Homo sapiens: one gene and its partner. The protein of the gene in region 1 purifies or fractionates together with the protein of each later gene. This does not show direct contact. Each region holds a gene or a part of one and is shown in the gene's direction. Other genes may lie near its edges.

Region 1 (15,113 bases):
GGGATTTTTCTTTTTTTCGACTTTAAGATTAGAATGCTCTCATTTCTGAGGGTTTACTATTTACTTTTTATAAAATAAGAGCAGAGAGGAAGGCGGTTTATTGATAAATTCTCTTCTAGCTTTTCTTTATGTCTTTTTGCAATATTACCCCTCAACTTGAATTAATTAGGCCAATTTATGCCACCATTTTGAGTTTAAATCCAAGGAGACAAACAGGAAATTTCTGAGAAATTCTCCTTTGTTGAATCATTTATACCCAACATTTTCAGTTTTTTTTGTTTGTTTGTTTGTTTTTTGTTTTTTTTGTTTTGAGACAGGGTCTCACTCAGTCACCCAGGCTGGAGTACAGTGGCTTGATCTCGACTCACCTCAGCCTCCGCCTCCTGGGTTCAAGTGATTCTCCTGCCTCAGCCTCCCAAGTAGCTGGGATTACAGGTGCATGCCACCATGCCTAGCTAATTTTTGTACTTTTAGTAGATATGGAGTTTTGTCATGTTGCCGAGGCTGGTATTGAACTCCTGACCTCAGGTGATCTGCCTGCCTTGGCCTCCCAAAGTGCTGGGATTACAGGCGTGATCCACTGCACCTGGCCAGTATCCAACATTTTCTAGTAATTGCATGGGCTTGGTTGCAAGCAGATGGTGGAATCTGATCATTGTCCCAAGCTCTTCCCCAAGAGTAAGACAATTTTTCATTGAATAGGTGGGTACGTTTGATTTTTTTTAACCTAGAAATTCTTTAGCTTATCAGTTCAGTTCACACATTCTTGTAAATTTCTAAGTATAATATTTAAATCATACATTATGGTCTGCAAGTAGGACCATTTAATTTTCTGATATTTAATTATATCCTATTTTATTCTAGTCTCAACTGCTAGTTCTACCTAAACAATACTAGTTTAGGATTTCTTTAGAGCAGCGGTTGGTAACATATCTGGCCTGAAATTTTATTGGAACACAACCATGTTCACTTATTACATGTGATCTGTGGTTGCATTGGTGCTACAGTGGCAACTTTGAGTAGTTGTGACTGATCGAATGACAGGTACAGCCTAGAATATTTAATGTCTTGCCATTTAAAAGAAAAAAATGGCTGAACTTTGTTTTAGAGTAGCAGATTTAAAGAAGAAAACACCAGTGAGGCTACCGATAACGTTATAGAAGGTGATGAATAAAGGATTATAGACGTTTATATGAAGTATACATTACAGGGTAGAGAATCAGATGAATTTTTTGGGTAAGGGATGACTCGAAGAATCATGTTAAAACTTGCTATATAGGTAGATGGGTAGTTTTTAAAGACATTTAAACAATTGGTACCCTTTTTCATTATGAAAATATAAGGCACATGATAGCCAGGAAAAATAGATAAATAAACCATTATGTTATGAATATCAGTTCAATTTTTGTTTGGTACCTAAAAATTTACTAGGATATGCATCAAATTGGATACTTACCCAATTGAGATGCAAGGTGTAAATATTAGTAATATTAGCATGACTTTTAAATGTTTTGTTACATTGTTTTCTAAAAGCATCACTAGAAATATGGATTGCCACTAAAAATTAATAGACCATTAGTTTCTTAGGACCATTCTTTTTATTCTGTTTTTTTTTTGTTAAATAAATATTTCCAATAAAGGAAAAAAGTTGTCTATATTTCAGTTTTCATAAAACAGAATGTTTAAACATTTTTTCTGATCAGAAAAGTAGCCACAAAAACTGCTATATTTTTAAAAGGCTGTGATGAAACAATGCTGCCACTCTGGAAAACAGTTTGGCAGTTCTTTAAACAGTTGAACATAGAATTACCATATGATCCAGCAATTGCTCTCCTAGGTATATACCCCTAAAAATCGAAAGCAAAGACTCAAACAGATTCTTGTACACCAGTGTTCATAACATGTATAGTAGCCAAAATGTGGAAACAACCCAAATATTATCTATAGAAAGAGTAGATAAACAAAACGTGCTCTGTACATATAATGGAATATGACTCAGCCTTAATAAGGAGATTCTGATACAGGGCACAACGTAGATGAACCTTGAAAACATTATGTTAATCGAAATAGGCCAGACACGAACGGACAAATGTTGTATGATTTCACTTAAATGAGGTACCAAGAATAGGCAAATTCATAGAGAAAGTAGAATAGTAGTGACCAAGGGCTGGGAGAGGGGAGAGGGGAAGTGATTAATAGGCTTCTGTTTGGGAAAATGAAACATTTCTGGAAATAGATAATGGTGATGGTTGCACAACATTGGGAATGTACTTAATGCCATAGAATTGTATGCTTAAAAATGGTTAAAATGGTAAATTTTATGTAATGTCCTTTTTTTTTTTTTTTTTGAGACAGGGTCTCACTCTGTTGCCCAGATTGGAGTGCAGTGGCACGATCTCAGATCACTGCAACCTCCGCCTCCCAGGTTCGAGTGATTCTCCTGCCTCAGCCTTCTGAGTAGCTGCAACTACAGACATGCACCACCATTCCTGGCTAATTTTGTAGTTTTAGTAAAGATGGGGTTTCACCATGTTGGTCAGGCTGGTCTTGAACTCCTGACCTTAAGTGATCCACTTGCCTCGGCCTCCCAAAGTGCTGGGATTACAGGTATGAGCCACTGCTCCTGGCTGTAATGTACATTTTTCTATAGTGAAACAACAATGGGCAAGGTGTGGTGGCTCATGCCTGTAATCCCAGCACTTTAGGAGACCAAGGCAGATGGATCACCTGAGGTCAGGAGTTCGAGACCAGCCTGGCCAACATTGTGAAACCCTGTCTCTACTAAAAATACAAAAATTAGCCTGACATGGTGGCACACGCTTGTAATCCCAGCTACTCAGGAGGCTGAGGCAGGAGAATCGCTTGAACCTGGGAGGTGGAAGTTACAGTGAGCTGAGATCACGCCACTGGGCTCCAGCCTGGGTGATGGAGTGATACTCTGTCTCAAAAAAATGAAAAATTAAAAAAAAAACAACAACAACGATAACAAAAGGAGCCAAAATTACCCTCTATCTCATAGACTGCTGGGCTTACGTGAGATAATTTGCATGAAGTGCTTAGCACAGTGCCAGGATCATAGGGAATACTCAGTAAAGGAAAGATAAATGTTTTTCTAATAATGTAGAACTATTTAACTATAGAATGACCTTCTTTGGGGGTGGAATAGTGAGCTCCCTGCTACTGGAAGCGTTTAACAGGGGGCAGAACAGACTTCTTAAAGTTTCATATGCAAAGAAATCATCTGGACATAGTGTTAAAATGGAGATTCTTATTTAAATAGAGTCTGGCTGAGGCCTGAGAGTCTACATTTTTAGCAAGGTCCAGGTGATATTGATGTTGCCAGTTGAGTGCACTTGAGTAGCAGGAGGCTAGATGATTCCTTAGGGGGATGCTGGAGAAGCTATGTGATAATTCATCAGATGGAGCAATGAGATAGATCTCTGCGGCCTACTGCGGGAGCCACTCACCACATGTGGTTATTGAGCATTTGAAATGTGGCTAGTCCAAATTGAGATGTGCTGTGAATGTAAAATACACAAAAATGTAGTATGGAATAGACTAAAATATTTACTTAGTAATTTTTATATTGATTACATGCTGAAGTGATATTTTTGGATGTATTGGGCTAAACACAATATTCAGAATATATATACATATATATATATGTATATATATATTATTTTTGAGGGGGAGTCTTGCTCTGTCGCCTGGGCTGGAGTTCAGTGGCATGATCTTGGCTCACTGCAACCTCTGCCTCCCGGGTTCAAGCCATTCTCCTGCCTCAGCCTCCCAAGTAGCTGGGATTACAGGCACCCACCACCACACCTGGCTAACTTTTTTTTTAATTTTTAGTAGAGATGGATTTTCACAATGTTGGCCAGGCTAGTCTTGAACAACTAACTCAAGTGATCTGCCCGCCTTGGCCTTCCAAAGTTCTGGGATTACAGGCATGAGCCAAAGAATATTAATATTGGGATCGCTTGAGCCCAGAAGTTTGAGACCAGCCTGGGCAACATAGGGAGACACCGTTTCTACAAAATAAAAAATAAAAGCCTAGTCGAGTATGGTGGTGCATGGCTATGGTCTCAGCCACTCAGGAGGCTGAGGTAGAGACTTACTCGGACCCAGGAGGTTGATGCTGCAGTGAGCCATGATAGTGCCATTGCTCTCCAGCCTGGGTGACAGAGATAGACCCTGTCTCAAAAAAAAAAAAAAAAACAACAATGTTTAAAGGGCTATTAATGGAAGGAGATCAAGCAGAATCTAGAGGGTGACACAGGGTTAGAAGATTTTCTTTTTGTGGTAACCTGGGAAGAATATGAAGCTGATAGGAAAGATAAATGGAGAGGGAAGGTGGCTCTCCAGGAGCAGCAAGGAGGAGTGAGTGAGGTCTGCAAGGAGGCATAGGTAAGACTAGGTTCATGCAATATTTACATAAACATATAAAAGATGGAAAAATGTTAATGCTGGTATCTGGGTAGTGGGGATGACGCTTACATTTTACTTACTTTTGTGTGTGTGTGTGTGTGTGTGTGTGTACTGTTTGTTTTTTTGAGACGGAGTCTCACTCTGTTGCCCAGACTGGAGTGCAGTGGTTCGATCTTGGCTCACTGCAACTGCTGCCTCCCGAGTTCAAGCGGTTTTCCTGCCTCAGCCTCCTGAGTAGCTGGGATCACAGGCGTGTGCCACCATGCTCGGCTATTTTTTGTATTTTTAGTAGAGACGGGGTTTCGCCATGTTGGCCAGGCTGGTCTCAAACTCCTGACCTCAGGCCTGCCTCAGCTTCCCAAAGTGCTAGGATTAAAGGTGTGAGCCACTGCGCCCAACCTCTTTTGTGTTTTTATCTTTATTTGTGTGTGTTTAAAATTTTTCTTTTGTGTTTTCCTTTCCCCTCCATGAAGATGCATCACTTTAAAATTGAGGCCAGGCGGGGGAGTATTACTTATTATGAAAACAAAAGCAGAAAATCTGCTTCCCGATGTAGGAGGACCATAAGTTAGGGATAGCCAGCCCACTGACTCCAGCACACAAGGACATAAGGCCACCCTCCAGAAGCACATGACATGAACACACCTATCTCAAGAATTATAGGATAAGCATGTGTGTATGCATGGTGAGGACTAGAAGGAGGCTTTTGACTATCAAGAGTAGCAGTGGATGTTTGGATTTCAGGTAATTGCTACCTTCCTTCCACTTTTGTGTATAGTTTAGTGATTTATAATAACTATGTATTTTTTATAATCAGAAAAAATAGTAAAGCTATTGTAATGTTGAAAACTATATATAGTCTTCACCAAAGAAATTAATAGTCCCAATGTACACTGCACTGATAAAATCACATCTTAGGCTCTCATTCTCCTACTGGCCCGGAAGAACCAGTGGCCATATTGTGAGCTGTCTGTGGAAAGGGTCACGTTGCAGGAAAACAGGGGCAGCCTCAGCAGCTGAGAGTGGCCTCTGGACAACAGCCAGAAAGAAACTGAAGCCCTCAGTGCTACAGGTGCAAGGAAATAAATTCTGCAACAATCTGGGTGAGCGTGGAAGTGGATTTTCACTCAGTCAAGTCTTAAGATAAAAATACAAGTCTGGCCGACACCTTGATTGCAGCCTTGTGAGATCCCAGAGCACAGGACCCAGTGAAGTCATGCCTGGACTCTTGATCTACAGAAACTGTGAGACAGTACATGTGTGTTGTTCTAAGCTGCTGAATTTGTGGCAAATTTTTAATGCAGCATAGAAAATTAACACACACTCCTACTAGCAGTATGTGAGAATTTGAGATACTTTACATCCTTGCCAATCCTCAGTCCTTTTAACTTTGGCCACGCTGGTGGGTGTGTATTGTGATTTTAATTTTAATTTTCCTGATGAATAATAATGTTGAACACTTTTTAATATGCTTATTGGTTATTGGATATACTCTCTTATGAAGTGCCCCGCAAGCATTTTTCCCATTAAAAATTTGAGTAGCCTATCATTTTATTACTGTTTTAGGAGTTCTTTACATATACTGGATATGAAATTTTGTAGGATACATGGATTAAAAATCTACCATTGTGGGGCTTGCGTTTTCACTCTTCTTAATGGTGACTTCTTTTTTCTGGGGGGTGGGGGGGATGGAGTCTCACTCTTGTCGCCCAGGCTGGAGTGCAGTGGCGCAATCTCGGCTCAATGCAACCTCCGCCTCCCAGGTTCAAGCGATTCTCCTGCCTCAGCTTTCCGAGTAGCTGGGATCACAGGCGTACGCCACCACACCTGGTTAATTTTTGTATATTTAGTAGAGACGGGGTTTCACCATGTTGGCCAGGCTGATCTCGAACTCATGACCTCAGGTGATCCACCCGTCTCGGCCTCCCAAAGTGCTGGGATTACAGGCGTGAGCTCCTGTGCCCAGCCAAAAAAAATTTGAGGCTGGAGCACAGTGGCGCGATCACAGCTCACTGCAGCCTTGACCTCCCGGTCTCAAGTGATTCTCCCACTTCAGCCTCCGGAGTAACTGCGACTACAGTCGTGGCTAATTTTTAAATTTTTGGTAGAGGCGGGTGTTTCCTTATATTGCCCAGGCTGGTCTCGACCTCCTGGGCTCAAATGATGTTCCTGCCTCGGCTTCCCAACTATAGTATAGATGAGAGCAACATAGCATAGTGGTTAAGAGCAATCCCAGCTCTGCCATTTTCTAAATTACTCTCCTAACCTTTTATGGCCTGTGTTCTCAACCGTCAAAGGGGAAAAATAATAGTACCTGTCTTATAGGGTAGTTAGGAACACAAAAAGCTCTTGGCATCACCCTTGGTACATGGTAGGTACTGCACAATGTCAGCTAATATTATCGTCATGTGTGCTGCCTGGAGAAATTTTTAAGTGGAAAACAAAACAAACAAACAAAAACACAGGCCAGACGAGGTGGCTCACGCCTTTAATCCCAGCACTTTGAGGGGCCAAGGCGGGTGGATCACCTGAGGCCAGGAGTTGGCGATCAGCATGGCCAACATGGCGAAACCCCGTCTCTACTAAAAATACAAAAATTAGCTGGGTGTGGTAGCAGGCACCTGTAATCCCAGCTACTCAGGAGGCTGAGGCAGGAGAATCGCTTGAACCTGGGAGGTGGAGGTTGCAGTGAGCCGAGATCGCACCACTGCACTCCAGCCTGGACCACAAAGTGAGACTCTGTCCAAAAAAAAACAAACAAAACCCAACAAAATAAAACAAGGTGAACTAAAATGAGAAATATCCTTTTGGAAGAACATAGTTCCAAATATTTATTCATTCAACAAATAACCATTTAGGGCCAACTTGCACTGACTTTTCCTTATAACACATAAGCAATAAACCCTATTATTGCGTACTCTCGCGTGATTAGGGAACGTTGTTAAGAGGCTCAAAAATCGGACGTCATAGCTCAAAAATCGGACGTCATAGCACATTGGCTAATGGAATCACCCAGGGGCTTTGCGGTTTCCCCTTCCAGCAGCCAGAGGGGCCAGAGTCGGAAGCTGGGGGTCGGACTCTTGGCATCTTCTGGTGGATTATGAGGTTTGGATTAACTGGGATTTCCCGTTGGTGTTTTTCTGCCTCATCTGTTTAGCTTTTTGTGGTCCCCTTTTTGGTATCCAACTTGCTCTTTCTTAAGTGAAGTTTCTGATTAAAGCAAGAGCTTCGAGTAAGGGGTCTGACCGTAATTTTTCACTGGTTAATGTCTGACGTCCAGTAGGTGCTGTCTGGATCATTCTCCGTCCCTCCCTCCCTTCTTTCCCTCCCCCCCTTCCTTTCTCTCCCTTTCTCTTTTCTTTCTCTCTCTCCCTCCCTCCTTCCTTTCTCTTTCTCTCTCTCTCTCTTTCTCTCCTTTCTTGGATGGAGTCTTGCTTTGTCACCCAGGCTAGAGGGCAGTGGCGTGATCTCAGCTCACTGCAACCTCCACCTCCGGGGTTCAAGTGACTCTCCTGCCTCAGCCTCCCGAGTAGCTGGGACCACAGGTGCGTGCCACCACACCCAGCTAATTTTTTTGCATTTTTACTAGAGACGGGATTTCACCATGTTGGCCAGGCTGGTCTCAAAACTCCTGGCATCAAGTGATGCGCCCGGACCCTCAAAGTGTTGAGATTACAGGCGTGAGCCACCGCGCCTGGCCTTGAACTTTATTTTCTCATTGAGCCCAGGCACCTCACTAAATTCGGCTCACCCCTATGTCTCACTTTCCTACTTTTGTTTTGAAGCCTTTGCCCCACCCCCTCCACGTTGCCGCCTTTTTCGTACTGAGCGCGCAGGGCACTACGCCCACCACTCCCCTTGACCCACTCCTCAAGCCCTGATACCGGGGCGAGGCCCCTTCCTTTTCTAGTCCTTCTACGCGCCAGGTGGGTGGGTTTCGCGGTGACGAGGCGACACCTCTTTCCCCTCTGGCGAGCACGTTAACTGGGGAAGCTACCAAATTCTCACGCCTTAGCTGCCCTGCCTCCACCTCCCGCAAGTCCGGTTGCCCCTCTAGGCTTCTGCGCCTGCAGTGGTTCCGACCCTCGCCTTTAGAACTCTGCCGCTTCCGCCTCTTATTTCGCGCCTTTGTTTTTAGTTTTGGAAGGGGCGGAGTTGAAATGGCTGCGCCGCGGTTGCCGAAGCAACGCTTTGGTTACTTCCGTTGGTTTCAATGCTTCCGGGTTGGCGCTGCAGTGGCGTTTCCGACTGTGGGAGCCTCAGCTTCCCAGTCGTCCGATGAGCCCGAGCAGGTGAGGGGGAGCTCCTGGACTTCCAGGCTGGGGAGCGGGGCTGGGCCGCGCCAGGCCGCGCGGGGCCGGGCTGGCCTGGTTCCCGGCCTGGGAGGGGCTTAACGGTCCTCTGGTCTCTCTCTCCCCTCAGCTGAGTCCCTTCCCTGTCTTTCACTCTTCTGGCATCGGTGGTTTTACTTCTTCGATTGAACCCTGCTTCCTCGACCCCCCTGGGAGGCCGCCTTCTTCAGGCGCCTCCCTTCTCTCCACGAGCTCGCTCTGACAGCTGAGGAACTGGCAAGATCCTGCTACCCAGAGGGTGAATGGGTATCTTTCCCGGAATAATCCTAATTTTTCTAAGGGTGAAGTTTGCAACGGCGGCCGTGATTGTAAGCGGAGTAAGCAAACACCTCCATTGTATTAGTGTAAGGGATACTGTTGAAAGATGCTCCCCTTCGGTTTCTACCCCCTGTCACTCCTGAGGTCAAGGCATTGAAGGCATCTATTAAAATGCAGTTCAGTTACTTGATTGGCATGACAGCTGTTATCAACATGAATTAGTTTCTCAGACAGGATAACAGCAGGGACATTTATGGTTTCCTGTCAGTGATTCCTTGTTGTTGTTGTTTTTCCCCCCAGCCTAGAGATGCCTAGCGTTATCATGAACTCTTCCCTCGTCTTCATTCCCTACATCATCGAGTTCTTTGTGTCTTCATTGGGGAAGTCTATCTCTAACCTCAGTGCCAACAAGCATCTTTGTCTGCTGTACTTTGCACCATCCTAAGCTAGTCTCCCTGCCTCTCCCGTTTGTAATGTAATCCACTGTGTTTGCTGCAGCCCTAATAGGCTAAAATGTGGTGGATTTCCTCAAGTCACTTCGTTGTTAAACACACACACACAAAACATGCAGCCCCCTCCTACACCCCCTACCCCCACCCCTTGGTTTCAAGCCTTTCAACATAACATGCTCCTTATCACACTTCTTGTCTGATACTGTTTCAGTCAACAAGGGAATTCTCTGTTCCAGTTAGGTTCCTTTCTTCTTGGCACAAACCATACTGATGCCTGCTTCTACATGCTGTGCTTGTTCCCACATTTGTGTTTCTGTTCATTCTCTCTTCCCTGCCCCTCTCCCTTACCTGCACCTAACCAGGTTGTACCTACCGTCTCTCAAGGTTCAATTTAGGTTCTCTCACCTCGGCAATTTTCAAATTAGTCAATCCCATGCTGGTTGTAGTCTTTTCTATGCTCCTCTTGCTCTTAAAGTTTGTACTACACAGTTTAGTACTTAATTTTTCTCTAACGCACTACTTTGATTTCTTCCACCAGATTATAAGCTCTTGAAAGGCAAGTACTGTATTTCGTACTTTTTTCTCTGTCCCATCTCATTGGTTATTCAGAAAAGACAGGTTGAGTGGTAAATATTGTCTTGGTGCTAGAACGAATATCTGTGTTTTTCAAATATGATTATACCCAAAGTGCATTGCAGGTTTGGGCATTTAGCATGCCTTCAATAAATATCTGCTTGGCTCTCCATTGTTACCTTCTGAATCTGAGAATCTCTAATTTCTACTCTTTCTTAAAGGAGAAAGCAGGAGAGGCACCCAGAGTTTCCTGACCAGATCTTGGGAGTAGTATAGGGCAATGTAACTTGTATTGTAGGACATTCTTACTTTCACTCATTAGTCTATCAAATTCTCCGAAGTCAGATCTTCAGAATAAATGTTGGCATTTTGAAGACAATTTTCATTGGTTTCTTTATACAGTAAAAATATTTAGGGTACTATATTTTTATTTTACCTTAGATATGACTACTTTTACGCATATTTGGGGTTAGCCCCTACAAGTTAAAATAATTTTTAGAGGGCTTGGGGTATTTTACATAAGTAATTCCTTGGAACAAAAGCAAGGGAACAGGGTTCGCAGGCAGAGAATATCTGGGGATCAAGATAGTGTCATACACAGGGTGTGTAGCATTGGCCAGGTCCAGCAAGTTACCTTCCTTGTTTCCTCTGCAATCTTTTATATACAGGCTGCATACATAGGTAAAGGATGTCACACTGCAAAACCAACTAAGTATTGAATGGATATGTATTCAATTCTATGCAAGCTATAATGGGGGTTATAAAAAGTACTGTGAGATATAGTATCTTCCCTTGGGGATCTTACTTAGTTAAGAGAGGAAATAACATTGGACATCTTGAAGTTGACCCTCATCCTAGTCATTATTTTTATGCCTGAGATTAAGATATAGAAGGGATAAAAGAAGGTTCAAAAAATATTGCACACCTGTAGAATAGGTGTGACACAACACGCATGCATGTAGACAACTTTATGTAAAAGACTTGGAGGTTTCAGCTGACAGTTTAATGATTTGATAGTGTGATGTGGCTCCCAAAAAAGTGAGTGCAATTTTAAGCTCTAGTAATTGAAGTATAATGTGTCAAATGAAGAGAAAGATCATGGATATTTAGCTCAAGAAACATGAGATGTAAGAGAACATCATAGCTGTCTTTAAATATTTGAAGGGCTTGCCTAGGGAAAAAAGAATGCATTTGTTGAATATTACCTCCAAAGACTGGGTACAAATTAGAGGAAGACAGACTTTTGGCTCAATATGAGGAGGGAGTGTCTAAAAACAGATCTAATCAAATATGATCCAGGATTTCTTCATAAGATTTTTTCCTAACATTGGAGTGAAAGAGATTTTACTATCAGATGGGGGTAGGGAAGTCGTGATTGTGGCAATGGTGGGTTTTGCCTGTGGTCTCCAGATTTTTGGATTTCATGGGCCAGTAAAATGTAAATGAAAATGTGGGAAGGGTACACAAATACAGGCTAGTTAGCCTGTGCTCCAGGCGTAAGAAGAATCTGATCTGTTAATAATAGACAGTCCCTAAATTAAATACATTTAGCTGAAAAAAAAAAAAAGGACTAAGTGTCCTTATTTTTTTCATTTCGCCCCAGAATTGTGGGAACTTCATTAGGGAACCACTGGGCTAACTGGCCTAAGATTCAGCGACTGGTCTTTCATCTTCCTGCCATGTCCTCCCTGTTCCTTGCCTTTCACTGATTCATCATTGCTCCCTGAGCACATTTTCCTTATTAAAGGGCTGGTAGCAGCTTGTGAAGTTCCGATAGAGGCTTTCTCTGTAATACAAAGAGTTGAAAAAAGTTGTAAGGAGAAAAAGTTTTGGAGAGACAACTTTAAGTAAAAGTAGCTGTCTGAAACCTTTAAGACTATTTGGGGCAATCGATAAATTTGTGAATGGAGAGTTAATTTTTTCCTCACAAACTCAAAGAGGGGATATGCCATGGTCTTGCTTTTCCATCTCTACTCTCACCATATGTGTCATATTTTACTATCAATTCTAATTGGAAAATGTGGGCATAGCTAGAAATGGTGATAAGGTAGTATTTAGTCTTCAAGACTCCTATTTCCAGCTGCAGTTGATACTTGAAGTGGCTATTCCTACTTTGCTCATTAGAATTCTTTTCAACAACTTTCCCTCAAAAGGGCTATCTATCCCAGACTCTATATGTGCTATGCTTGAAAGGAAGCCTCCATAATGATTTTTGTGGCCTGTAACTAAAACATTTAATCAGCGTGTTTGCTATCTTCTCTGGAAAATTGTATTTTGCTTAGTTACAGAGAATTCCTTATGTGGAAACAAAGCAAAACCTTCAAAGGGATACTGTGACTCATAGCTGCTAACCCCAGACTGGGCAATGGGAGGGAGGGGTGGGCAGCAAGTAATATCTGTTAAGATGTAAATTTGGGTACTTAAATTTTTAAAAATGTAATAATGATAGTTAACTAACAATTATTGAGCTACATGCCAGGCACTTTTAAAGGTGTTTTTCATATATTATTTAATTTTCACAACAACCCTATGATATAGTTTTTATTATTAGTTCCATTTTACAGTTCAGAAAGTGGAGGCATAGAGAGATTAACTTGCCCAAGGTCACAGAACTAGTAAGTGGTGGAGTCAGGAAATGAATCTGGAGTTAGCATTTAAATTTTAACAGTCTGACTTCAGGAGTCTGCATTCCTCACCATAAACCACTTGGAAGTTGCTTTTGAAATTCAGAAGTATACATACTGTGAAGCTCTGAAAAAGGAATATTTGAAAGAAATCTGAGAGTCCATGCTAAGAACAGATACTACTTTCAGATGGACCAGGATTTAGTAGGCAATGCCTAGAGCAGTTCTTAAGTGTGGAAGTATCAGCGTTATTTGGGATCTTGCAAATTCTCAGGGCCATACCACCAATCAGAAACTCTGGGGGAGAGGCCCAACAATCTATGTTTTAATAGACCTTCTAGATGATTCTAATACATGCTAAAATTTGCAAAACCTAGAGGCCAGAGCTCTGGAAAAAATAAAATCCAAGAGAGAGCAAGCTGACAGTGGCAGAAAAAGAGAGTAAAGCTGAAAAGATTGATGATGACAGGTCTAACGGGGGTGGGATAGGGAAGGAGAAAAGGGAGGCTGGGAGCAGAATACGTTGTTAAAGAACTAGAACATAAAAGAAGAACAGTATTTATATGTGTGTGTTTTAAAAGGCCAAGAGGAAGGAAAAGGAGATCCACTAGATGGATGTACGTTAAATGTCAGAGGGAAGATAGACATCATATTGCTATCATTCCTTTGGGCGCTAGAAGGAAGGTGAAAAAGTTCTTAGCTCAGCCTGGGCCTAGTTGGGGGGACAAAGTTATATATAGCTAGAAACCCTATAGTAGAGAGATAGGAGGGCTAAGAATATGAGAGAGTAGTAGTGTGAGCCTGTGCTTTGCACCTGAATCAAGCTAACTGAATACCATGAACTGCTTTTATGAGATGCCTCAGCCTATATAATTTGAATTCCGGGTTCCTTCATTTGTAATTATCTAGTTGAATGTCAAAGTTGGGTGTGCTGGATGGACTGAAGCCTCTTCTCTGGGTGGGGATGAATATAACATTAAAGAAACTGGAGAGAATGAAGGGCACAGGTTGATCTCTGAGTGAATCACACGCCTACCCCTACAAAATGTCAGTAAAGAACAAACTCATGATCATCCAGCACATAAAACAGGATCCCCCATTTTTGTGTCATTCCACTTGGTGGGGTTTTTCTTCTACATCTATTTTATTTGCCAATTTTGTTTATCTAAATTATATGATCAGATGCTAACAAATGCTCCTCACTCTTGTGCCTTGTTCTGATTTGTGTTTATTTTTAGCACCAGAAAAGTACCACTGTAAGTCATGAGATGTCTGGTCTGAATTGGAAACCCTTTGTATATGGCGGCCTTGCCTCTATCGTGGCTGAGTTTGGTAAGAATGTGAGAAATGACAAATCTGCATTATACGGTATAGATGGTAGCTTATGATGATGGTTATTTTTGGTGAAAGCTAGGTAAAAAATAAGAAGCTCGCCTTATTTTGAAAATTGTCTCAAAGCCATGAAGTAATATTTCAGGGAAAGTACTACTGATGGTATGGCAGATGAGTTAAGAAAAGTCAAACTAAGGAAAGCTTTTTTGGTAGTTTAGTGATTTGTTAGTTTGCTAGGCTTAAGTAAAATACATGAATATATAGAGGGAGTTGATATGTCATAAGGGTTTTTGCTATATTTCTGTATTAATAGTCTTTTATGCTAAATTATTTATAAGTTTATTTGTACTGAAAGTCCTTTTTTTCAAACCTCTTTCCCATTTTAGAAGAAAATGTACTAACAAGATCAAACAAGATTCTCTTCTACATGATTTTGATTTTGAAATATTTTTAGATTGTCGTTTTTTTCATCTTCCAGATGTTCTCTTTTCTAAACTATTCATGAGTGACTACTGACGTTCTTGGCATATCCTGTGGTGTTGTGATATTTGGGTCATCAGTGACCAGAGCTACCTAATCACCTTGTTAGTTTTACACCCTGAAATATATTTTGTCAATGTGATGACCACTTCTGTTTGTTGATGTAAGAGGTTTGGTTAAAGAAATTTCCCCCCCAAACACTCTGCTGGTATTAGTCCTGAATTACCTAAGGGACCAGGATGAGTAGAACCAAATAAGACTTTGCCATTATCTTTCATAATATTAGGGGACTATTTGTTTCTTGTAAACAGATAAAAGAAAAACCCCACAAAACTTTGTAACACTATATAAGAGCATCTGGAGCAGCAATCCCATGCTTTCCTATCTTTGTGAAAATTTAGGGAGATTTTATGAGACACAGAGGTGGGGAGACTTGGGGTGGGAAGGGGCAGGAGGGAGACTGATAAATGCCAGATTATATGTTACAGATGAAATAAAAAACAACATTTAATTATTTTGCATTTATAATAGGGCAATCTGAAAGCATTTTATTATATTACAGTTTGAAGTATATTGTGGGTCAATTGGTGCTGCCTATGTATAGTATAATGCAT
Region 2 (14,876 bases), on another chromosome or scaffold:
GGCCAGGCCCTGCGCTGGCCGCTCACCCACTGCCCCTCACAGCCTGCTGCCCAAGGTGCCTTCCTGCGAGGCTCCGGTCTGAGCCTGGCCTCGGGTCGGTTCACGGCCCCCGTGTCCGGCATCTTCCAGTTCTCTGCCAGTCTGCACGTGGGTGAGCCGGATGGGGCAGTGCCGTGTGCTGTGACGGGGCTGGGGCTGAGCTTTCTGGGGGCGCCTGGCATCGCCGGCCCCGGGTGCGGGTCCTGTTAGGGACCTATCCCCTGCCCCATGGGGGGCCTTGGACTGGGCATGGGGTCCCTGCTGCACGCCTGGCCTCAGGCGCCCCCTCCCCAGCCCCAGCAGCCACTCCTGGGCCTGTCCTGGGATGTGTGCCCTGAAGCCCCTCCCCACCAGCCCCCACCCCGCCCCCCATGCACCACCCTCCCCAGGGCTCTCTCCGCAGACCACAGTGAGCTGCAGGGCAAGGCCCGGCTGCGGGCCCGGGACGTGGTGTGTGTTCTCATCTGTATTGAGTCCCTGTGCCAGCGCCACACGTGAGTGACCTCAGCCCCCGCTCCAGGCGGCAGCCCCCGGACCACCCTTGGAGGGGCTCACAGGCCACAGGGGTCTCTGGGCACTGGAGCAGGTCTTGGCCCCCTGGACCTGCAACGCCTCCCTCTTGCCCTGTGGGGCTGTGTTCAGGTGCCTGGAGGCCGTCTCAGGCCTGGAGAGCAACAGCAGGGTCTTCACGCTACAGGTGCAGGGGCTGCTGCAGCTGCAGGTGAGTCCGGGCCGGGTGTGAGCGGGAGGGCTCGGGTGCACTCGGGCTGGGCCGGGTGTGAGCTCGGTGCACTCAGGGCGCAGACCTCTGGGGCCTCGGCACCTCCTAGCGCAGGGCAGGTGGGCAGACGTTGGCCACCGAGTGGCTGGGCTGTGGCTGCGGTTGTGACGTCCCCGTGCTTCTTACAGGCTGGACAGTACGCTTCTGTGTTTGTGGACAATGGCTCCGGGGCCGTCCTCACCATCCAGGCGGGCTCCAGCTTCTCCGGGCTGCTCCTGGGCACGTGAGGGCGCCCAGGGGGGCTGGCGAGGAGCTGCCGCCGGATCCCGGGGACCCTCCTACTGATGCCCGTGGTCACCACAATAAAGAGCCCTCCACCCTCCCCACTGCCTTCGAGTGCTGCCTGGATGTTTCACTGGGGGTGGAAGCCAGGCTGCCGAGGTCGGCGGGAGATGGGTGGGGGCAGAAGGGTGCTGTTCACAGGGGAGCCCGGTAGCTTGGGGTATGGGCCGTAGAGCCTCCCTCGGGGCCGACTTACCTGGCCCGGGATTATGGTGATGGCAAGAGGCTGGGCGCTGCCCTGGTAGCCCCTGCAGGGGCCACGTCGACCCTGAGGACAAGGACCACTGTCCGTGCCGGCCCCACTCAGCTCTGCCCACGGCCTGTCCAGCCTTGGGGGAGCAGCAGGCCGTGGGGCACTGGAAGCCCCAGAGGTTGGAGAGCAGCACTGTTCTGGGCCCTCGGGAGGCCTGCGTCCTGTGGGGGGCTCTGTGCAGGGCAAGAGGACGTGCATGCCACACACGGGACCGCGTGCTTGCATGTGCTGGCCGCCGCAGGCGTGTGGAGCTGAAAGGCACCCCTGCGGGCTCAGGTGCGCCCAGACCGTGCCGTGCCCGGGGCACCCAGGTGGAGCAGGGCTGGAACCAGCAGGCTTCTCCTCGCCTGCTCTCGGTATGGCCGCACTCTAATGACCAGGGCCTCTCGGGGGCCTTAGGGGCCAGAACTGCCCCATGGAGGGTGGGGTGGGCCCCATATGTGACCATCATGCTGCTGCTCCCTGGCAGGTCCTGTGGATTTGGGCCCCACCCCCACCCCATTTTGGCTCTGGCAAACCCACACCAAAGAGTGTAAACTGGCCTCAGGACGTCCAGGCCTCTGCTGAGCTGCGGAGATGCCATCTCTGGTTGGCATCCAGAGCCCTTAGTCGCTGGTGGGGTTGGGGAGGTTGGAAGAGGCCAGAGCCCACGGCTGTTACCCCTCCCCTGGGACCTGGAGCTGCCGGGGCTGGCACAGAAGGGGCCCTCCCCAAGGCTTGCTGGGCAGTGAGGCGGGACAGCCCAGCCCTGCGACGAGGTGTGTGGGCAGGCGCCAATCGGCACGAGGTGGGCTTGGGTGGTGACCCGTCCCCACCTCTCTCCCTGGGCCCCCCAGAGTGGCGTCAGGGGCTGGGGCTGTCTGGAGGGGCCTCTGCTTCACTTGCCAAGGCTGTGGCCCCGGCTTAGGGGCTCCTCTCTGCCCTCAGCACCCCTTCTGTGGGCACGGCCTGCCCCCTGGGGCCTGGATCTGGAACGGGGGGTCTCCCTTCTGCAGCCCCTGCCCTGCTTGGCCACAGCACTCAAGAGTGCTCCCTTCCAGAGAGTCGGGCAGCTGTGCATCTGTACAGGGGGAACCAAGGTTGTGCCGGGCCCTCCTGGAGCTGGGTCAGCGGGGACAGCAGTGTGGGGGCCCTGAGGAGGCAGAGGCAGGAGCGTGGCCTGCACCTTCCTGGTTGGCGTGAGCCCTGGGCTGCGGACTCCCCTGTTTGCTTCCAGTTTTCAGTGGCTCCTCCCCAAACTGACGGGCCAACCCTGGGCAAGAACGGGCTGGGGGCAGGCACCCAGGATCAGGCAGCACCCAGCCAGGCCTTTCTGAACACCGCCTGGGGCCTCACCATCCGGGAATGGGGGCCCTCTAGGTTCTTCAGCAGCAGCCAGTCCCCCACCCTACCCAGTCCCGGAGGTAGGAGCTGTGATGACAGATGGACATGCCAGAAATGGGACCCAGGGCCGCGTAGAGCAAGATGGTGATGAGAGACAAAGAGACGTGGAGTGGTGGGGCGGGGGGCCGGGGCTGAATGAGTTGGGGGCCAGGGCCCGGGTGAATGGGGGCGGCGGGGGCTGGGGCAGGGACCACGGCCGGGGTGAATGAGGTGGGGGATGGGGGCTGGTCGGGGGTGGCTGGGGGCTGGCATGGGGGCCAGGGTGAATGGGGGGGGCTGGGGCCAGGGTGAATGGGGGGCGTGGGGATGTCCTGGTGCTGGCACCACCTCCCTGGCCTCTGCCTCCTGGTTTCTGCCCCAGTGGGAGGTGATCAGCCACTTAGCCGCAATTCCCCTGGAATGTGCCATCTCTAGCCCCCTCTGGGCACCCAGGAGCAAAGGAATGGACAGGTCGGGGTGGGGTGGGCGGCCTCACAGGAGGGTCCAGGCTCCCAGCCCACCCAGCCAAGGCTCCATCCTCTGGCCCAGCCCAGCTGCACCCCTTCATTCTCTCTCAGCCTCACCTCCTGGGCTGGACCCACACTGCAATGTTTGCCATAGAAGGGACCCTGGACTCTTGACGAGGGTGGGAGATGCCTGTCACTCACCCAGCCGGAGCGTGGGGTCCCCGGGGCAGGTGCAGGCCAGCCAGAGCTGCTGTTGCTTGGGGTCTGGGCTGGCTGGGGGACCTGGGGAGCCCAGGGAAACGGATCTCTTCAGGCCTGTGCCCCCCGGTTTGGGAGCTGGGGTATTGAGTGTCCCAAGCGTCTGGCAGCTTCGTGGACCCTGGCAGGAGCAAAGCCAGAGCAGCCGGCTACGTGCCGGACGGCCTCAACCCGACCCCTGACCCCTGACCCTTGACCCCATGCCCTGAGCGGCAGGGAGCTGCCGGCTTCTCCGTGACCTCCACCAGGGCTGACTTCCCAGAACCGCAGGCCGACCCTGCTGCCTGGCCGGGGCTGGGGGCATCGGACACTCCTGCCGTGGGCTCCCTGCCATCCTGGGAGGGGCCATGCCCGGTGCGGGGACACTCCCCCCACCAACCCTCCAGCTCGTCTGCTCACAGGACCAGCCCTTCCCTAGAGTCCCAGCGCTGGACCTGCCTGACCCACCCTGCCCCGGGGCTGCCTCGGCTGGGTCGGAGCCAGTATTCCCAGCCCTGGTGCTGTCCTGGTCTTGAATGGACAGAAATGCGGACGGGAGCTCAGGGCAGCCAGGAAGTCCTCTTGGGGCCAGGTGCGGCAGCCACCCTGAGGGGGCAGCAGGAGCCAGGGGAGGCAGGGCTGGGGGCTCCTGGCTGTGAGGAGGAGGCTGGGCCCCGCTCCGGCCCCGCCTGTCAGGTGTGGACACCATTGCCCATCCGTCCCCGGTGCCTCAAGGGCCCCACTGTTGGGGTACGTAGGAGATGCGGCTGCCCTGGCCTGGCCCCTGGGGGCGCCTGGGTGTGGACCCTGGGGCTGCAGCCAGGACAGGCAGGCGCTGGAGGCCCAGCTTTGGCATCTTGTCTTCGCATCCTTCTCCCCGCCTCTGTCACCCCTGCCGCCCCTGCCGCCCTGCAGCTGGGAGGGTGTCTGCTCCAAAGGCCCCTCGGACTGCCTGCCAGCCTCTCTGGAGTAAGCCCAGGGCGTTCCTGGGGCCTGTCCCAGACCCCAGACCACACCACACCTGGTGACCACTGTCATCTGGGCCTTGGAACAAGAATGGCCTGGGGGCATGTAGGGGCTGTGTAGGGTCCAAACAGACCTGCCTGCCCTGCTTTGTAAAAATCTATGTACCCAGGTGCCCCGTGTTGACCCCGGGTTGACAGTTGTGTGTCCCTGCGACTGGTGCGTGTGTGCCCACGTGTCTGCACATCTGTGTGGGTCTCTGCCCTGGGACTGGGACTCTCTACAGAGCCAGCAGCACGGCCCCCTTGAGAACAAACCCAGAACAGCCGTCCAGGACCCCGGGCCCGAGCGCTTGGCTGGCCACTCAGTGCCTGGAGCGGGCGTGGCCGGGGTCCCTGGCGTCCGGGAGGCCACATAGCTTCGGTCCTGCCAGGGACAGCAGAGGGGCCCATGGAGCTGTGACGGCTGCTTCGGCATGTGGGGCTCCCTGAACTGCGTGAAGGGGTCCAGGGACGGGGCTCCCACCCTCAGCTGGGGGCTGCTCAGCGCGCTGTCCCAAGGGGAAGCTCTTTCCTGCCTGCAGAGCGCTGCCCTGGGATCTGCTGTGCTCCGACGCCGCTGGGAGCTGGAGCTGGGGGCAGAGCTCGGCGCCGCGTCCTGGGGCCGTCGCTCACGGGCTGGGCTTGGCCAGTCTGTGCTTGGACTCCCAGTTCAGGTCACTCTGAGCTATGGTGACCTCAGGGCCTGTCCCCCAGGGGTCTCCCTCAGCCTGACCCTGACCCAGGAATGGCAGCGTGTCTGGTTGCGGGAACACGCCCTGGCCCTGCCTGTGCCTGCCGAGCCACCGGCGTGTCTGTCCGCCTGCGCATCTGACTGCTGTACAGGTGGGCCTGGCACCAGAGGCCTGGGGACAAAGGGTCTTTGTTTGGGAGGCTGGGGGCAGCCCCTGCTCTGGGCCAGTGACTCACGGGTGCCCGGGCGTGATGATATCTGTGTTGCGACAGCCAGGTGTCATGCGTGTGACCCAGCCCAGCAGGGCCTCCTGCCCACCCCGCCCGCGCCCACGGCCCTCACTTGGGGGTGACGAGAAGCGTGACAGGTGGGGGCTGGGCAAACCCCGTCTCCGCAGGGAAGCGTCTCCAGACCCCTTGGGCCCCCAGCCCGCACGCCCGGGCCTCTCCCTGCCACACAGGAGTGTGCAAAACACATCTCTGCAGCAGGAGGCACCACGGCCGGACTCAGGCCCTCGGGACGGGTGCTTTTTAGGCTGAGTTCAGCTGTTCCTGGGTCGGAAGGTCTGGGTGAGGCGGTTGAGGGTGAGGCACCGTGACCGTCGCCCCGGCGGGGACTTGGGCCTGGCTCTGCCCATCCCTCACTCTCTCTCCGGTCTGAGGTGGGCGGTGGCGGGTGCGGGGCCCCTGGGGGAGGCTGGGGCCGCTGAGACCTTCGGATGCCACCGGAGGGAGGGCCTGGGGCTTGGGTTTCCTTCTGCTCCAGTCACCGGGCTGGGTCCGGCCCTGGGTCAGCGGGGAGGGGAGCTGGACTGCGGCCCTCCTGGGCTCCTGTCCTGCCTGCCCGGCCGGCCCTGGAAGATCTGCGGCCACCTGTGTTTACTCTGGAGGATGCAGCTGAGGAGGTCCTGGCAGGGCCACACTCGTAACCCCTGGCTTCTCAGCTGTGGGCGCGGTCTTGCACCCTGGCTAGCTGAGTTGAGGGGACTTTGCGGCATCTGTGGCCCCGACCAGGGCAGAGTACCCGAGCCCCAGCCCAAGGAGAGGCCTCGCTGGGCAACGCGACCAGGACAGAGGCCGAGGCTGGATGGGTGGGGAGCGCCTGGGGCCTTCCAGATCCTCCTTCCTGCCCCTCCCGCCTCCACCTCCCTTCAGCCCCTTGGCTGCAGCCAGCTCTCCTGGGATCACTCATCCACTGTCTACCTCCACTGGGAACCTCGGTGAGGGAGGCTCAGATCCTTGGGGAGGGAGGAGGGGGTGGGCCCCAGAGAGACCTTCCGAGGAGGACAGGGTGGGGCCAGATCTTGGTTCTTCTCCTCGGGTGGTTCTGACCTGGCCAGCGTGGTGCAGTGTGGCCATCAGGGCAGGGCTAGCGGCACCAGCATCTAGCAGGGAGGGTGCGGAGGGCAGGGAGGCCAGAGAAGGAGGGGCTGTGAGTGCTGGGGGTGGGGACCCACCCTGGCCCTGAGGGAAAGGAGTGTGTACACCCACAGAGGCCAACTTGATGGGGTGGCCTGGGTTTCAGCTCCCAAGGCTGTGGGAAGGTCCTCTGGGTGGGGGCTGGGAGGAGACCTCAAGGGGAGGCCCAGGGGTTTGGGCTGTGCCCCCTCAAAAGCCTCCTCTTTGAGGACCCCAGAGATTGGCCAGGCCTGTGGGATGGACACAGAGGTCTTTCCCCTCAGCCCACAGTGGGAGAGGGAGACGCCAGCTCACCTCAGAGTAGGAAACCAGGAAAAAGCGCCAAGCCCTTCCCAGGCCCCTGAAACCAGGGAGCAGGCCCCACACAGCCAGTCCAAGGAGCTGGAAACTTCTGACAGGCTGCTGTGGGCCCAGGAAGCAGGGCCTTGCGCGAACAAGGGGCCTCCTCTCTCCTCCCGGCCCCGCTCTGGGTGCGGAGGGCCTGGCACGCACCTGTCTCTGGCCACCTGCTCCCGAGGACTCCCCAAGCCGTCTGGGCCGCTGGGGCTTCCATTCCTGCAACGTCAGCTGGTCTCACAGTGCCACAGCTGGGGAGCCTGGGGCCGGTGGGGCCACAGGAGGGCCGTGACCCCCTTAGACCTGAGGACTCTGAGCTGGGACAGTCAGCCAGGGAGAGGGTGGAAGAGTCTGGGGTGACCCAGGCCGCGGGGGCAGCCCTGCTGCAGGCTGGACTGATGGAGGCCTGCCGGGAACAGGGTGTGTGCTGAGCCCTGCGGGGAGGAGATCTGGGCCCAGTCAGTGCTGGGCGTCTGTGATGCCACAAGGTTGCAGGAGCCCCTGCCTGCGTCTGCACCGAAGAGCGCCGGGCACAGGGAACTGGGCTGGCATCCTGGGGCTGCTGGACGGGGCGTCTTCCCTCGCAGCCCTGGAGGCCACGCTCCTGACTCTGGGTAGAGCCCTTCCTTGCCTGGTGGGGTGGGGGTGGAGGGTCCTCAATCCTTGGCCTGCAGAGGCATCGCCTGGGTGTCAGTCTCTAGCCACACAGTGGCTTTTTCCCAGGTCTTTTCTGGTAAGGACACCAGTTCCGTGGGAGTAAGGCCACCTCAGGACCTTGCCTTAACGCAATTCCACCTGCAGAGACCCGACTTCCAGACAAGGTCAGTTTGTAGCTGCTGGGTTAGGGCTTGGAATATCTTTTAGGGGGCACAGTTCAGTCCCGTAACAGGAGCCTTGACAGCCAGGATCCCAGCCAGACACAGGTGGGCAGGTGGGAACCTGGAGGCCTCAGGGGCGGGGGTGCCTCCGGATGCAGGTAGCACTTTGCATCTTGGGGGTGACCAACCAGGCCACAGGCCCGGCGGGTACCCAGGGCTGGCCCAGAGAGCTGGAGCCAACGTCAGGTGCCTGCATGCCAGCCTCAGGGGGCAGAGAGGCAGGACCATAGTCCCCAGGAAGAGGGCAGAAGGGGGTGCTCTCCTCCTGGGGGATCCTGAAGGGACCAGAGCCCATCCTCTTGGCTTGACCTGCATTCCCTGCCGGCCCTGTGCCTCCTGGGGGCTGTGTGCGTGTGGCTGCGCCGTGCCCGTCCAGCCCTGACACTGTCCCCTCCATGGTAGGTTCTCGGGGCCACTAGAGGAGAAACATCCGTGTGGCTGAGGAAGAGTTGGCTGTTTTGTATCCCAAGTTCCCACATGGAAATGAATTCGGTGACCCCCCATCTCCCGAGGGCCTCCTGGTTTGGCCCTGGTCTCCGGGAACCGAGTACCTGGGTGGGTGGGGAGCTGTACAAGCTAAGACCAGGGAAGGACGCCTGGGGGACGGATGCCACGGCCCGTGCACGGTCGATTGGAGCCGCAGGGCAGGGAGGATCTACAGGGCAAGTTCCAGGTGAGACCAGAGAGAGCTGCAGCTGCCCCGGCTCTGGAAGCCCCCAGCCCTCCCGAGGCCCAGCCTTCAGCCCACGTATCCTCTGAACCCGTTCACCACGGTACGGCTGGGGAGGGTCAGCCTGGGGCAGGCTTTGTTCTGATATGAAATTTAATGTCTTAGGCTGAAAAACACTAAATTTCCATTTTTTTGTAGGTCAGAAGTGGTTGCAAACTGGATTTTTAGACTCTTCCTGTTGGGGGTCTCGGACATTTGCTCTTTTCCACAGCGGCCAATTCTTCAGAGCCACAAAGAACTGGGCGACGCAGGCCAGAGGTGTGGGAGTCCAGCCCTTGGTTCGAATCCCGCTCTCCACTGTCCATGGGGTTCTCAGCAAGCCCTCTGGCCTCTCCAAGCACACGCAGGGTTCCTCAAGCAATTCCAAACTCCAGAGAAGACATCCCAGGTAAAATCGGATGGCAGGGACCTGGGACACCGCTGTGACGGGCAGCCCCTGGGCTCGAGTCCACAACTCCCACGGGAGGGCAGGGCCCCATCCTGCTCACACCGGGGTCCCCAGCCCTCGATCCTCACGAGTCCTCGTCCAAGAACAAACTGTGCACACACGGGCGGTCAGTCCTGGATTCAAGGTGGCCCATCGGAGCTCGAACTCAACGGCCTGACCTAGGGACGCCTCCAGTCCCACCCCTACCTTTTGGAGGTGGGAGAATCACCGTGCAGGTCACTGACCCACTGACCACAGATCACCACTCTCTCCCGCCCCCGTTTCTTCCTCCTGAGACCACTGCTGCCTTCAAACGCAAGTAACCCAAACCTGCTCCCAAACCCATGGCAAGACTGACCCGGAGCCTAACCCAGCCCTGCCCCGAGCCTGACCCTGATGCTCGAGACTAGACCCCAGACTGGACCCGGTCCCAAAGTGGGACAACAAAGACCACAGCGGGGACCACCCAGGTCCCCCAGAGAGAAAACCCGCGTCGGACTCCAGGGAGCTCATGGTAACCCCTTGTCCTGGGGCAGCTTCATTTTACTTTGGCAAGGACCGCAGTGTTCGCTTTTCTCATTAAACGAGGGGCTTTCAAGGATGTGTTAAAGTACGTGAGAGACGGGCCTGGTGCCGGCTGGTCCTGTTTTCTTAAGGCGGAAGTTGGGGAACCGCGTCAGCACTCCGGGGTTCGGATTCCTGGAACCTGGGGCAGAGTCTGAAATAAAGCAGCACCGGCCCTGTGTGGCGCGGACCCATGGGAAGCCTTGAAAGGAAAGTCTCTTCAGAAAGAAACAATGGGTTCAGTGACTTGTACACTGAAAAGATAGATGGCCAGTTTTAAAGTTCTCCTGCGTTTAAACACGGGCAGCAGCGGGGTTGACGGTACAGGCACCAAGTTCTGACATAAAAGTCTTTCCTTAAATCATGTAAAAAAACCGAGACGTGCGCACTGCCAACTTACACTCATCGACACAAACTTACAATATTTATAAATAAGTCGCAAGCAAACACTGAGTTACATTTACCACGAAGTCACTGGACAGAGACCAAAATCCCATGAAAGCGGATTGATGTGAAACCACGTTAGATCTGAGACGCAGACGTGAGAAACGCCACTGATAAGAGACACGGAAGATCGGAGCCCAGCCCCGTGAGCCGGTCGGGGACAGCACGGGGGTCAGCGTGCGGCCGGGCCCGGCTCAGGCTCGCTGAGGTCCAGGAACGGGCACCTCCACCTGGACACGGCGCGCTGCCCCGGCAACCCCCAGGGGTCTCCCAAACGCAGACCGGGACGCAGCGACCACAAGCGTGGCTGCGGGACGGGGGCCTTGGGGCCCGGGCGTAGTGCGCCCGCTCGGCACCTGCCCCAAGGCGCCGCCGGGTGAAGCAGGTGTCCCGGAGGGCCGGGCCGCGGCGGCTCAGGGGATGCCCTCCCTTCTCTGGCAGCACTGCGAGGGCGGCGCGGACCAGTCGTACACGTAGGACAGGCGCAGCTGCACCTCGCGCTTGCACAGGCGGCCCTCGCGCGCCAGCGTCGCGTGCTTCTCCAGCATGTCCTCCAGGCTCTGCTTGTGCGTCACCAGGTACTGGTTGCTGCAGCCGCGGGACCGGTATTCGGTGTCGAAGCGCGGGTCGTGCTCCCGCTGGACGTCCACCGGCGCCAGCCAGGCGCCCAGAGACACGTCCTCGCTGTGCCAGGCGCGCAGGTAGTCGCGGCTGAGGCGCAGGTAGTGCACCAGGTCGGCCGAGAGCACGTAGCCGCCGCCCAGCGCGTAGGGCAGGTAGTAGTCGCAGAGTTGCCAGGCGGCCTCGCGCCAGCGCCCCCCCGGCTTGACGCGGCCGCGGCCCGAGAAGAAGCCCCAGTAGAGGCGGCGGCGGCGCGCGGGCTCGCGGGCGCGCAGCTCGGCCAGCAGCGCGTCCAGCCGCGCGAAGGAGTCGTCGTCCGCCTTGAGCACGAACTCGAAGGCCACGTGCTCGTCCAGCCAGGCCAGCATGGCCAGCACCTTGGCCGTGAGGTTTTCGTAGGCGTCGCGCAGCGCGGGCAGCAGCAGCAGGTCCCCGTGCCGCGCCTGCTCCCGCTCCAGGGCGCGCCGCTCCTCGGCGCCCAGGCCGGCCGTGCCCACGGCAAAGCGCGCCCACACGTCGCCCGGGGCCCCGCGCCGCGCAAGCCACGTGCTGCGGATCACGCTGCGGCGCTCGGCGGCGCGGGGCGCGCTGGCCACCAGCACTGCCAGGAAGGCGGCGGCGCGCGCGGGCGCGGGGGGAGGCGGGCTGCGGCCCGACATCGCCCTGGGGTCCCCGGGCTCGGCCGCGCAGCGCGCCAGGTAGAGCAGCGCCGCCCCGCACAGCGCCAGCGTGCCCAGGCCTAGCGCCGCCCGCCGCCGCCACGCCCGCCGCAGCAGCTTCATGGCGCCCGCGCCGGGCCGGCGGCCCAGGCCGGACTCGCGAGTGCGCAGGCGCCGCCGGCTCGGGGCGGTGCGCGTGCGCACGGCGCTCCTGGGAGCGCGCCGGGGCCTTCCGCAGACGCCGAGCCCCGGGGCGCTCGGAGGCCGGCGGCCAATCGGCGGCCGTCACGTGGCCTCGGGCACCCTTGTCATTGGTCAACCTCGGAGCGGCCCCGCGACCGCTTCCGCCCGGAGGAGAGATGGTGGCGCCGGCGTCCCCTCCGTGAGGTCGCGCCCGTTCGCACCGCCCCCGCCCGCAAGAAAGATGGCAGTGGCCTGATCCGGGCCCGTTGGCGGCGTCACTGACGCTTCGCTCCGGTCCTCGGATCCCGAGCGCGGGGAGGCAGACCGGTGAGTGAGGGGCCCGGGACGGCCGCTGCAGGCCGCGGGGCCAAGTGTACGCCGGCCGGACGGCGAGGGCGGGTCTGGAGGCCGCCGCCGCCTCCCGCCTTGGGCTGGGGCATCGTCCGTCCGCTCGGCCTTGAGCCCTGGCGAGACTCCGCCGCCACCGGGGCTCCCGGGGTTCCCGGGGGCAGGGACAGGCCGACGACGCTGGCCTCCCCGGCCGCCGGCACGTCTGGTCTCCTACTGGCCAAAACCTACGAATGCCACCGGGAAACGGAGGCCCAAGGGGTCTGGTTGGACTCGCGTTTATCGGCGAGGCGACCTTGGACAAGCTGCCCCGCTTCCCTGCGCCTGCGCTTCCGCTTCTGAACCGCGTGGACCCTCATCCCCAGTTAGTAGGATTTGGAGATGTGAAGTCGGCTGTGTGGAGCCCTTGATGTCTGGCTCAGAGGCGGTGTTATGAACCCTGTTGAGCTTTTAGAATCTAACCGTGTGTGTTGTTAACTGCCAGAAATAGCCTCGTTCCACCAGAGCTGAAGCCCAGGGATGGCAAAGAAATAGCGTCTCTGCCTAAGCTGTTTCCCACGTCCGTTTTGCAAGGGTGTGTTGATTCCTTGCTGGGAACTGAGCTGCTAGGGGATGGCGAAGTCGAAACCCCATTCCGGTGGGACCGGCCCGCTCCGCTGTGCTGCGAACCTGGCACACCGTGATGAATAGATACTCTGAAGCCAGGAGAGGAAGCGCCACTTGATGGACTCCTGATATTTATAGTTACTTTTGGGTTACTTTTTATTCCCCCTTTTTCGAGACAGGGTCTTATCTTTTTGTTTTTGTTTTTTAAAGAGACGCAGTCTCACTGTGTTGCCCAGGCTGGTCTCACGATCCTCCTGCCTCAAGTAAACCGTGTAACTCATCAAGATATGTAGAATCAAGAACTAGCTTTATTTTCTCTAGGAACAAAGTACAGTCTCTTTGCACACAGCGTGTGTTTTACGACTGTAGTTAGTGGAGTCAGCACCAGGAGGAGGTGTCTTGGTTCTTATCCAGGACTCTCCCCTGGTCAGGCGATCTGGGACGACAGGAATAGAATTATGCCACCACTAGGGAAGGGAAAAGCCCTCAGCCATGTTCAGAAAATCAGGCCGGGTGCATGGCTCACGCCTATAGTCCCAGCACTTTGGGAGGCCGAGGCAGGAGGATCACTTCAGGTCAGGAGTTAGAGACCAGCCTGGCCAACATGGCAAAACCCCATCTCTACTAAAAATACAGATTAGTGGAGAGTGGAGGTGGGTGCCTGTAATCCCAGCTAACTGGGAGGCCGAGGCAGGAGAATCACTTGAACCTGGGAGGTGGAGGTTGCAGTGAGCCGAGACTGCACCACTGCACTCCAGCCTGGGCGACAGAGTGAGACTCTGTCTCAGAAAAAAAAAAAAAATCAGACATGAGCCCCTCACCCAGGGTTTCCTTCCTTGGGGGAACTCAGGCTTGTACCCCTCTTGGTTTGTGGCAGACTGCACTGACTTCAGGACCACTTTCATGGCGGCCCCACTGGTGTTTCTCGATACCTGGAGGCAGCATTTTTTCGTTTAATATTACCCAGGGTAGCATTCGTTGAGCGCCTACTGTGTGCAGGCAGAGTGGCAGGTGCCAGAACAGTGAAGCTGAATAAGACGGCCACAGAACAGGAGTCTCAGTCCATGTGTGTTGAGGGAACAGCTGTGACATGGCGGGGCCTCAGCGGCACCCGAAAGGACCCGCAGGTGTTTGCCGGAGGGGCAGACTGTGAAAGGAGTAGGCTCGTGGGTGAGAAGGACCCCGAGTTCCCTTTGGGATACATGAGGCATGAGGCCCTGTGAGCCCCTGCTTCCCACCAGGACTGGCCACGCCTCGGACGGCAGGACAGACTTCTGGGCTCCTCGGCCTTGGCGTTCGCTCGCGAGTGTGGGCAAGGGCACATGTGTGTAATACGTGCATGCGTGAGTGTGGATGTGTGTGTGCACATCTGTGTGTGGGGGTTGTGTGTTTGTTTGCTGGGACCAGGCCCTGACGCCCTCTGCACTTAGGGTTGGCTGTCTTCGCAAAGCCTGGTCAGTCGGGGGGAGAGGGGGAGCCTCCTGTTTCTTAGTGAGAAGCTGAGGCCGGGGAGGCCACATGACTTAGCTAAGGTCATAGATCTCAAGAATGTTCAAGTCAGGGTCTGGAGAGTGACCCTAACCCCATGGGTCAGTGGCATGATGCCAGGAGGGACAGAGCCGGGCCCCACAGGAAAGCTGTGCTGCAGGTGTTGGGCGATGGGGACAGGTTAGCCCCTGGAGGTGCTGACAGCTCGAGAGAGAGATGGAAAGACGGAGAGACAGGGCTGAAAACTCAGTGTCTGTAAAAAAAAGACCGGGCACAGTGGCTCACGCCTGTAATCCCAGCACGTTGGGAGACTGAGGCAAGAGGATCGCTTGAAGCCAGGAGTTTGAGACCAGCCTGAGCAATACAGCGAGACCCGTCTCTACAAAGAGTAAAATAAAAATAAATTACTGGGCGTGGGGGTGCACGCCTGTGGTCGCAGCTGCTCCGGTGGCTGAGGCGAGAGCATCACCTGAGCCCAGAGCATCACCTGAGCCCAGGAGTTCGTGGTCACGGTGAGCTGTGGTCACCGCTGTACTCCAGCCTGGGTGACAGAGCAAGACCCTGTTTCTAAAAATAAAGAAAAAAACACCACGTGTGGTCCGGAGAAAACAAATGCCACGTGTGGTCCAGAGAAAACAAATGCCACGTGTGGCCCGGAGAAAACAATGCCACGTGTGGTCTGGAGAAGGCAGTGCCACGTGTGGTCTGGAGAAGGCGATGCCACATGTCTGGATCCTGTGAATCGAGGATATGTTTCATGTTGCAGGATAGACGTGCTTGGGGAAGTCTTTGCTGAGTCTTGCTAATGATGTGTCTGTGTCTCTCTGCAGACTGTGAGCTGCTTGTCCCCATCCTGCGGCCGTCCTGGGGACACAGAGCCCTCCGTGGTGCCCGGGGATTGGATTGGAGCCAGGACCTCACTTCCTCCTCTGCCCCTGCCCCTGCCCCTCCCAGCACCTGGCCCACACCCTGCAGCCCGCCCCATGGTCTGGCCCTGGGTGGCGATGGCGTCCAGGTGGGGTCCCCTCATTGGCCTGGCTCCGTGCTGCCTCTGGCTC

The links.
Region 2: the proteins of SLC25A14 (region 1) and SDF4 purify together in Homo sapiens (affinity purification with mass spectrometry; 2 studies listed by BioGRID and IntAct, with this or other methods). This does not show direct contact.

The regions. Positions count from the first base shown.
Region 1 is NC_000023.11:130,331,257-130,346,369, forward strand, and holds the start of SLC25A14 (brain mitochondrial carrier protein 1 isoform 1 precursor), read left to right. Parts: upstream 1-8,662; 5' UTR 8,663-8,706; coding exon of another isoform or gene 8,707-8,720; intron 8,721-8,850; 5' UTR 8,851-9,022; coding exon 9,023-9,097; coding exon of another isoform or gene 9,098-9,124; intron 9,125-13,925; coding exon 13,926-14,019; intron 14,020-15,113. UniProt on the Homo sapiens protein: Transports inorganic anions (sulfate, sulfite, thiosulfate and phosphate) and, to a lesser extent, a variety of dicarboxylates (e.g. malonate, malate and citramalate) and, even more so, aspartate and glutamate and tricarboxylates.
Region 2 is NC_000001.11:1,228,719-1,243,594, reverse strand, and holds the start of SDF4 (45 kDa calcium-binding protein isoform 2 precursor), read left to right. Parts: upstream 1-11,593; 5' UTR 11,594-11,703; exon of another isoform or gene 11,704-12,088; intron 12,089-14,648; 5' UTR 14,649-14,801; coding exon of another isoform or gene 14,802-14,822; coding exon 14,823-14,876. Other genes in the region: C1QTNF12 (adipolin), read left to right, coding at 43-151, 443-533, 682-760, 949-1,047; B3GALT6 (beta-1,3-galactosyltransferase 6 precursor), read right to left, coding at 10,327-11,316. UniProt on the Homo sapiens protein: May regulate calcium-dependent activities in the endoplasmic reticulum lumen or post-ER compartment. Isoform 5 may be involved in the exocytosis of zymogens by pancreatic acini.